Homo sapiens: one gene and its partners. The protein of the gene in region 2 interacts with the protein of the main gene of each other region in a pairwise test. Each region holds a gene or a part of one and is shown on either strand. Other genes may lie near its edges. The genes, in order: EPSTI1, PPM1D and CASZ1.

Evidence for each region.
Region 1: the proteins of PPM1D (region 2) and EPSTI1 interact in a two-hybrid assay, tested with the Homo sapiens proteins (one large-scale study listed by BioGRID and IntAct).
Region 3: the proteins of PPM1D (region 2) and CASZ1 interact in a two-hybrid assay, tested with the Homo sapiens proteins (one large-scale study listed by BioGRID and IntAct).

Annotation. Positions count from the first base shown.
Region 1 is NC_000013.11:42,885,859-42,888,691, forward strand, and holds the end of EPSTI1 (epithelial-stromal interaction protein 1), read right to left. Parts: intron 2,645-2,833; coding exon 2,636-2,644; coding exon of another isoform or gene 2,392-2,635; 3' UTR 530-2,391; downstream 1-529. UniProt on the Homo sapiens protein: Plays a role in M1 macrophage polarization and is required for the proper regulation of gene expression during M1 versus M2 macrophage differentiation.
Region 2 is NC_000017.11:60,617,123-60,620,778, reverse strand, and holds part of PPM1D (protein phosphatase 1D), read right to left. Parts: intron 1-3,656. UniProt on the Homo sapiens protein: Involved in the negative regulation of p53 expression. Required for the relief of p53-dependent checkpoint mediated cell cycle arrest.
Region 3 is NC_000001.11:10,789,998-10,793,653, forward strand, and holds part of CASZ1 (zinc finger protein castor homolog 1), read right to left. Parts: intron 1-3,656. UniProt on the Homo sapiens protein: Transcriptional activator. Involved in vascular assembly and morphogenesis through direct transcriptional regulation of EGFL7.

The DNA of each region.
Region 1 (2,833 bases), on a different chromosome or scaffold from region 2:
GGTGCAGTGGCTCATGCCTGTAATCCCAGCACTTTGGGAGGCTGAGGCAGGCGGATCACCTGAGGTCAGGAGTTTGAGACCAGCCTGGCCAACGTGGCAAAACCCCGTCTCTACTAAAAATACAACAATTAGCTGGGCGTGGTGGCGGGTGGGAGACTGTAATCCCAGCTACTTGGGAGTTTGAGGCAGGAGAATCTCTTGAACCCGGGTAGCAGAGGTTGCAGTGAGCCGAGGTCATGCCACTGTACTCCAACCTGGGCAACAGAGTGAGACTCCATCTCAAAAAAAAAGAAAAACAACAAAAATAACTTGGCTGACCATCACCTGATGGTTGCCTGACATTCCTGGTAGTGGGGGCCTCTCTTGGCCTGCTCCTGTCTGCCTGACTATCTACTATAATATAACTAAGCCCAGTAGTAGGGGAAATCCTTTGTTTTGTTAAAATAGGCCACTGGGTAGAGGTTGTTGCTTTGTAGATTTTAGGATCTATCAACATAATACCAAGAAGAAACCACAAAGGAAAAAGTGGTAAATCCAAATACAAAAGTGTTTAGAAGTTTATTAAACATTTTATTACACACCTGTATTGCCTAAAGTTTCTATAACAAACATCTTACATTGGAACGATTTTCTTGTTTTTATTTTCTACAAAAAAAAAAGCGGGGGGACATTAAAATTAAGCATAGAAATGGTGGAACTTTGGGATTTCCTGTCCAGTCACCTGCGAGTCAGGTTTTATTCCAATTGATTCAACGTGGCAGATTAAATGTGAAAAGTAAAATGGTGGGCTCCTTTAGGCAGCAAGTCTTGCTTCTCTCCTGGTTACCTCTGCCTACATAGATATTTGGTTAAGCAAGATGTTTATACCCCCACACATATTCTAGATAGTTCTGGTCATGAAGTAAGTCACAATTTTCCATATCTGCACAATTTTTAAAAAATGGAACTACCCATCTGCACAAAATCTTTGGGAGTGCAGGGTAGGCCAGGCAGTGGAGGAGAAATTGACACCAACTTCCCTGAGAGCTTCCAAAGTAAGAAAGCATCCCTTTTTCCTACGTCAACTCCTGGTTGCATGCTGGAAAATGCAGCAAGTGAGGCACACCAAGCATAGACGCAAAAATCGGAACACAACTGTAAGGTAGCCAGGCTGGCAGGTGTAGGGCCGAAATGGCTGCACACCACCACACTAAAATGTCTGCTACAGCCGCACATTTACAATCAGTTTGGTGATATTTCCAACACAGGCTGGGGGATTGAGTTTCCCCCATATAAGGCAATGACAAGGATTTCAAATGGACCAAACATTTTATATTAGTGTCAACAGCACTAACACAGCTTCAGCTGGCGGAGGAGAGGGAAACCAAGAATATCCACATTATTTACTCCAGAGAAACTTCCTGACACCATCTGTTCTCTGTTACCCCCCACCCACCAATGTGGCCCTTTCCTAGTGCACCCTTGCCTAGCTCTGCGAACCCCTCAGTTATGTCTCTTGGCCCAAGAATTTCAAAACCCCATGTTTTCCTGAATAAAGAGATTCGGAAAGTTCATTTCAACAGAGTGACTGGTAACACAGAAGATCTCTTAATGCTGCAAAGTATTATTAGTTGTCCAGCTGCAAAGATGATTTGTTGTATTTACCTTTATTCTAGGATTGAATGTAATGCTTTTGCTATACAATGTGGTGGCTGGGGGACGGTGAGGCGGAGGGGACAGAGGGATTGAGCTAGATTACACAGCGTAGAAAATCAATGCTCTTACACTCTAGGGTCTGAGAACTGGTTCAGGGTCACAGAAGTGAATAAGAAAGCCAACTGAACTAGCAATAGGAAATAGGTTACACAGAGCAAAGAAAAAACAAGTTTCTGAAACATGTACAAACTACATATGATGTCTATATTTGTGTCTAGCTGATGTGTATACAAACATTGGCCTTTCTGGAGATAAACTGTCCCCCTCTGAAAATCAGGGTAACACTATTAGTAAGTCAAGACCAAAACAAGAGCCAACAGTAATGACAGTACTATATTTGATCTATACGGCCTGGAAAAGGGAATTAAAATGAGACCCTTCAAGAGAGAAAACCCCAATAACTTTTCATTAAAAATAAAAATGACCCATTTATACAGAAGGAGTTCAAAATTTATTTATAAATTTGTGTAAAAGAATATAAGACCTTTTTCTTTTGTACATATTTGTACCATAAAGAAAGTAGGGATTAAAATCTAAAAAGACCCCCAAAGCTTTCAAAACCTGATCTGAGAATTAGATAAGAATATGTCACTTAGAAAGACAAGCCTGTAGCACCCATAGCTCTGATTAACCTGAAAGCATCAAGTGACTCCCTCTTTTTCTACCCTACCAACATCACTCTAATTATACTTCCAATTAGAAAAATAATGTAGCATTTCCCTGGCAGTAGAGATTAAATATGAGTTCAGGAATCAGCTCCTCCAAACATGCATAAATGAGGACAAGGAGAAGCCAGTCACTCCTGACTGCACGGTCAAGTGTGTGGGCAGTTGAAATTAAGGTAAAAACAGTGAGGCTGAACAAAATCACATTAAGAAAAAGCATCTCATGAGGCTTTTCGAGGTCAGTTGATGAAGGCCAGATAGGAGTCAATATTTTCTCATATACCCTGGAAGAAAAAGAAAACAAAAATTACTGCAAGCAGCAAAATAAAATTCAAAGCCTTTGTAGTCAAAAATGAAGTTCCTGCAAAGAACGCTCTTATGCATCAAGCTGAAATGACCATTTTTTAAAATTAACAACTTAAATGACCATTGAAACGATTTGATTTTCAAGTCACATTGCATTTGATTCACAA
Region 2 (3,656 bases):
CCCAGCACTTTGGAAAGCCAAAGTGGGTGGACCATGAGGTCAGGAGTTCTAGACCAGCCTGACCAACATGGTGAAAGCCTGTCTCTACTAAAAATACAAAAATTAGCCAGGCATGGTAGCGCACACCTGTAATCCCAGCTCAGGAGGGATCCTAACCTCAGGAGGCAGAGATTGCAGCGAGCTGAGATCACGCCACTGCACTCCAGCCTGTGTAGTACAGCGAGACTCTGTCTCAAAAAAACAAACAAACAAACAAAAAAAACAGCAACAAAAGCAGAAAAAAACAGTTGGGCTACATCAAACTAAAAGGCTTCTGCACGGGAAAGGAAACCATCAACAAAATGAAAAGGCAACTTTCAGGAGAAAATATTTACAAACTTTACACTATGTGGTAAGATATTAATATCCAAAATATATAAGGAAATCATACAACTCAATAGCAAAACAAACAAACAAACAAAAACACAGTTAAAAACTGGGCAGGCCGGGCGCGGTGGCTCATGCCTGTATTCCCAGCACTCTGGGAGGCCGAAGTGGGTGGATCAGGAGGTCAGGAGTTCAATACCAGCCTGGCTAACACGGTGAAACCCCGTCTCTACGAAAAATACAGAAATTAGCCAGGCATGGTGGCAGGCGCCTGTAATCCTAGCCACTGGGGAGGCTGAGACAGGAGAATAGTTTGAACCCAGGGGGTGGAGTTTACAGTGGGCCGAGATCATGCCACTGCACTCCAGCCTGGGCGACAGGGCGAGACTCTGTCTCAAAACAAAACAAAACAAAACAAAACAAAACAAACAAAAACAAAAAAAAACTGGGCAAATGACCTGAATAGACATTTGTCAAAGAAGTCATACAAATGGGCAACAAGTATATGAACAGAAGCTCAACATCAAGCATCATGACGGAAATTCAAATCAAAAACAAAATGAGACAGGAAGATCGCTTGAGGCCAGGAATTTATCACCAGCATAGACAACATAACGAGACCCATCTCCACTAAAAATTTAAAAATTAGCCGGGCATGGTAGCACACATCTGTAGTCCTAGCTACTCAGGAGGCTGAGACAGAAGGTTCCATTGAGCCAAGGAGTCTGGGGCTACAGTGATCACACCACTGCACTCCAGCCTGAGCAACAGAGCGAGAAGACCCATCTAAAAAAAAATTAAAAAAATAAAGAGAGAGATAACCTCACACCTATTAGGATGGCTATTATCAAAAAGATAACAGTAAACAAGTGCTGGCCAGGATGTGAAGAAGGGAGAACATTTGTACACTGCTGATAGAAATGTAAATTGGCATAGCTATTATGGAAAATATTATAGAATTAAAAATATATCTAAAAATAGAAGTACCATATGACTCAGGAATTGCACCTCTGAATGTATATCCAAAGAAAATGAAATCAGTCTCTCAGAGAGATACATGTACCTCAACACTCCCTGCAGAATTATTCAAAACATCCAAGATATGAAAACAATCTAAGTATCCAGCAAGAGATAAATAAATAAAGAAAATGTATGTATACACAATGGAATATCGTTCAGCCATAAAAAAAAAAAAAGGAAATCCTGCCATGTGCAACACAAGGATGAACCTGTAGGACATTATGCTAAGTGAAATATGCCAAACACAGAAAAAACAAATACTGTGTGATCTTACTTATACGTGGAATCTAAAGAAAAAGTCACAGAAGGAAAGAGTAGAAGGACGGTTGCCAGGGATTAGGGGTTAGGAGAAGTGGGGAGATGTTGGTCAAACAGCACAAACTTCCCATTATGAGTAAGTTCTTAGTATCTAATGTACAACACAGAGAGTATAGTTAATAATACTGTTTTGTATACTTGAAATTTGCTGAAAATAAATCTTGAGTGTTCTCACCACCAAAAAAAGGTAACTATGTGAGGTGATGGATGTGTTAATTAACTTGACTGTGGTAATCATTTCACAATGTATACATACATAAAATCATCTATCACATTGCACATCTTTTTTAAAAGCAACTAAAAAAATCTATTCTTCAGAAGATACCATTATTAGAATAAAAACAACACAGAGAACAGAATACACACACCTACGCGCCAAAGGAAAAGCATCCAGAATATATAAAATTTTCCTACAAATCAAATCAATGAGACAGACTACCCAAATGGGAGAATGGACAAAAAGCTTAAACAAGCCTTTTACAAAATAGGAAATCCAAACAGCCACAAAATATGCAAAGGTATTCAGCTTCTTTAATTATCAGAGAAATACTAATTTAAAACCACAATGAGATAGTGCTGCATAACTACAAGACCGCACAAATTAAAGTTCGACAATAGCAACCGAACTGTGGTCAAGAAAATGGAGCAACATGTACTATCATCAACTACTGTGAAAGTGTAAACTGGTACATTGCAGGTAACATTTAGGCATTACTTATTAAAGGTAAAGATATGTATACTCTTTGACTACCTCCTAGGTATATACCACAAATTAACATACATACACAACAAATACATGAGTCAACCATGGTAGTATGTGCCTGTAGTACCAGCTGCTCAGGAGGCTGTGAGGCAGGGGGATCGCTTGAGCCCAGGAGTTTACAGCCTGGGAAATACAGCAAGACCCTGTCTCTAAAACAATAATAAGGGCTACAAATGGGCAACAGCCCAAGTTGTTCAACATGAAAATGGACAATACTACATAAAGCACACAAGAATCTCACAAGCAGCACATGATAAAAGAACACATAGAGCATGACTTTCTTCAAAAACAACCATCATGTTTAGAGAAAAGTGGTGAAACTATTAAGAAAAACAAGTAAACCATTACAGAACTCTCATGATGAAAGTCAGGAAGGTAGTTTTTTAGGGGGAGATAGAAATATGAAATCAGAAAGGACATACAGATATCTGCAGTGCAGACAATGTTCTTTCCTAACTGGATGGTGTTCAGTTTATAATTATTCATTGAAGTGTACATTTATGTTTTATGACCTTTTCTATACATATGCTTATTTTGCAATATTTAAAATAAAAAAAAAGCAGAGAAAAGGTATCAATTTTGCCGGCAGAAATCACAGCAAGGACAGCTTCATAGCCCATCCAGTTTGCAATCTGGTTGCAGAAGTTATTTCATGGAAGCTCAGCCTAGAGTATACTGTATGTTTCTTCAGCCCTTTCAATTATTTGGGGTGTTTACTAGCTTTTGATAAAACCCTTTCTTCTATTTTTTTTTTTTTTTAACAACAGGGTCTCAATATGTTGCCCAGGCTGGAGTGCAGGCTAATTCACAGGTGTGATCATCACATACTACAACCTTGACCTCCTGGGCTCAGGCAATCCTCCTGCCTCAGCCTCCCAAGCAGCTGGGACTATAAGCATGTGCTACTGTGCCTGGCTATCCTCTTTCTTTTTAAACAAACTGAAGTAAATTAAAAAACAAACAAACAAAAAAAAAACTTCTACTACAATAAATGTGAATGAATAAATGAGGCGAACTCTCAGAAGTTCTACAGCACATTCAAAACACAAAATTTGGCAGGGTACAGTGGCTCATGCCTACATTCACAGTGCTTTGGGAGGCCAAGGCAGGAGGACCACTTGAGGCCAGGAGACCAGCTTGGGGAACACAGCCACATTCTGTCTCTACAAAAAAAAAAAAAAAATTTTTT
Region 3 (3,656 bases), on a different chromosome or scaffold from region 2:
CCCCTCCCCCAGTGGCCTCCTGCTGCTGGCACACCAGGCAGCCCTGCAACCAAAGGGAGCCACGCAGATGCCACCGCCCAGGCAGAAGACAGACCCACTCGCAGAGCGGCGTGGCAGCCAGAGGAGAGATCACCAGGCAGCCAGAACCACGGCTGACTTCTGGCCATCTGGGACTTTTTAATTTCAAAATAAGAAAGCCAGTAGAAAGTGGACAGAGAAGAAACCAACACGGGGTGCTGGCAATGATGCTTCCAGCCTGCACCCTCCCAACCACGCCACGTATCCCGGGCACAGGGACCGGCCTTATCGGTCTGCCGGGCTGCCCTTCAGAGAAAGGGAAGAACAGATCCTAATGAAATTACGGTTTTTAAAATGTCTATAAATTAAATCTCTCTCCTCTCTCCGTGAATCTCCCCCTGAGCTCCCTCTCCTCTACCAGGCTTGTTTGCCTCTCTTCGGTTCCCTCTGCTCATGTCTGTTTTTCTGATATAGACATCAAGAGGTTACGGGCTCAATTACAACTCCGCTGGAGTCTCAGCATCAGACTGGCTCGGCCTTCTCTTCTCCTCTTCAGAAACAAGATACCAAATAAATCTCTCTTCTTTATATTTTTATTTTCAATGCCAAAAGCCTAAAGATTCATTCCGTGGACTCACAGCCTTTTTGAACTTCGTTCAGATGGTGGGGAGAATATTCTTTTTAATTGTGTGTGAGTACAACATAAATGCTTCTCTCTTTATCTCGTTCCCCCCTTGTAAGGACACACACAAAAACCTTGGCTATGCCTGACATTTTAAAAAGGGGGAGAGGATGGTATAAATGTACTTAATGTATGTCTATAAGAGGGGGCGAGCGAGCCCTGGAGAATATTAGTAGGACATCTAGCACATTCTAAAGTTTGGGGGGGGACATCATGAGGAATCTTATTAGCAAAGGTCCATTTGTAAAGGGTAGATCATAAAAGGTGATTTTTTTTTTAAAAAAGAAAAAATTTGCTTCTACCTTCCCTAATACTGCCACGAGATGCAGAAGGGGAGATGTGCCATCTATATAATTTTACATCCGAAGAGACCCTCTTCCCATCAAAAAAAAAAAAAAAAGTTGAAAAATCCAAGTGTTAGTCAATCATCAGAGCTGTTGATTCCCGAGAAGAAGAAACCAGCTCTGAGTTGTAGGTCTAAGGGGAAAAGCAAAACAAAAACAAAAACCCCACTATACTTCTGGAAATATTAACCAGTGGGGATTCCAAAAGCTACTTTTCCTGGAAAAAGCACTTGAGACAAAGGTCGGAGAAAGCGGAAGCTGAAGGTGAAGCAAAAAGAAAAACTTAGTCTTTCCAATTAACTAGACTGGGAAAAAGAAGGGAGGTGGGAAAACACATTACTACCAACTCATTAATTCTTTCCTGTAAACAATTTAATTAAATTCTGCTAAATACAGGAGAAATACTTATTTTGGAGTGCTTCCCCCAACCTCAAAAGCAAATTCCTCCAGGTTCCTCCCCCCGTCATGCTAACACCTCCCTTGTCTCCAAACTACACAACCTTTCAGTGGGTTTCCAGCCCAGGCGTGGACTGCACTGCTGAGGGCTGCGAGAATGACAGCCTCATATGTCTGAAAGCTGACACTTCAGCCTTGAAAAGAAATGGGGGAAAATAAGCTGTTGACTTCTTGGTTAAAGTATTTTCTTGTTCTACTCATGTTCTTATGTCACTGGGCTAAAAAAAGAGAGAGAGAAAAAGAGGGGGAGAGAGAGAGAGAGAAGAGAGAGATGACTTTCCTTGAATGATCTGTTTAACCTAAGCCAGAGGAAAAAAAAGAAAGTCATTAATTACTTATGTGAGCTATTGCTTCAGAAAGACAATAAACCTGCCCGGTCGCCATGGATATGACATATTTGCTCTGAAAACAACACAATAATTAGCAAAGGGGAAAGATACAAGGAGAATATGCAAACTCCTGAGTTTAAAGCCACAGTGCTCTTTTCTACTCGTAAGCCTCTGTTCTGTTTGCAATCCAAATCAAACAAATTTTAAAAATATAGCAAAGAGGGAAATAATAGGAATGGTTCCTCTCGCCTCTGAGCTGAGCAGCAACAACCACTCTACCTCCCTCCCTCCAATATAAAATAATATAAAAGAGAACCAGGGTGGCAGAAAGAAAGAAAAAAAAAAAAACTCAAGTATTGCCTGTTTTATTTCCTATAGCAGGGGTGGAGTCAGTTTTTTTTTTTTTTAAGTGTGCTCTTATTTAGCATTGAACCTTCTGGCCAGATATAAATTTATTTATGAAAGCCAAATGCTCTGTACATGGCTTACCCCTCCCCCCCGCCCCCCCCCCCCCGGCCCCGCACACAAAGTAAATGGAAATGTGGAGGGGTGGGGTTGGGGGGGGTGTCCAGTTGAAAAAGTAAAGCAGTATATTCAGAAAGCACCATCTCTATGGAAGAACATTCACTCCCCCTACCTCCAAGAAAATGCAACCCCTGCCTTACTTTAATATTAAAAATGCATTAAATGGTTCTACCTACAACTTAGTCCCAAAGGATCATTAGGAAATGCAATCGCTTTGTATCATATCTGTCAGCGTGATAAATATCTGAGTCAGAGTCAGTTTGCAATTTTTCAGTGTCACAAAACAAGATAATTTTTTTCTGTCTTCCTTTCTTAATTCACTGCACCGCCTCCCCACGCCCCCACCCCCACCCCCAACCAGTCACAAATCTACAGAAAAATACCTGGGCAGAGAAGAAAAGGAGAAAAAGTTGATGTACTCTCACATACCAGACAGAGGTTATCGATATTCTCCCAAAAAGCAGGCAAAATTGAACTTTAAAATATTTGGGTGACAATTTTCCCCAAAAAATAAATAAATAAATAAAGCACTCCAGTAAGTTTGACTAAAAACTCCTTTTCCCCTCTTCCCAGAGGCTAATTTTCCTAAAACAGATGGTCAGGATCTAAAAGAGGAGCAAATATACCTCAACCCCCACAGGCAGAGAAATCTAACTTTGAACTTCTTTTAAATTAAAAAGGGGTGGGGGGCAAGATAAACTATTAATAAGTGTGAAAAAAATTAGCTGAGCTACAAGTTTTGTTTTTCTTATTAAAAAATTATTTAAACATAAGGGGAGCAGATATAAAAGGGAGTTTCATATTTAACTGACTTTCTTATTTTTTTAAACAATAGCTTTTTTAAAAGATTGGACTCTTTGATCTTGAAAGAATTTTGCTCTTATATGATGGGGGGAGGAAGGGGGTGGTGGTGAAATGATCTGTTTTAAATGATGATGCAACTTAGAGATCAAAGCCTTCGCTTTCTTCTAGCCATAATAAGCTGTACTTGCCACAAAGCGTAAGGCTCCCGGGCTGGGCTCCTCTCCTTCGTAAGAAGGAAATAAAATGCGCCGAGACTCAGAGCAAGACTCCAAGTCTCGGCAAGGTGCAAAGTCTAAAAAACAAACAAACAAGGCAAGGGGAAAAAAAGAGGAAGGCACTGCCCCTTTAAACGTTTTAGTGCATATGGAGTTTGATTTCTGAAAGAGATCAGTTTAACATCTCCATAGAAACCAGCAACAGATTATCATCAACAGAATAAATAACTAGTCTAATAAATTAAACAGGAGGCATAAGATCGCTGGAAACCTGATTACTGAA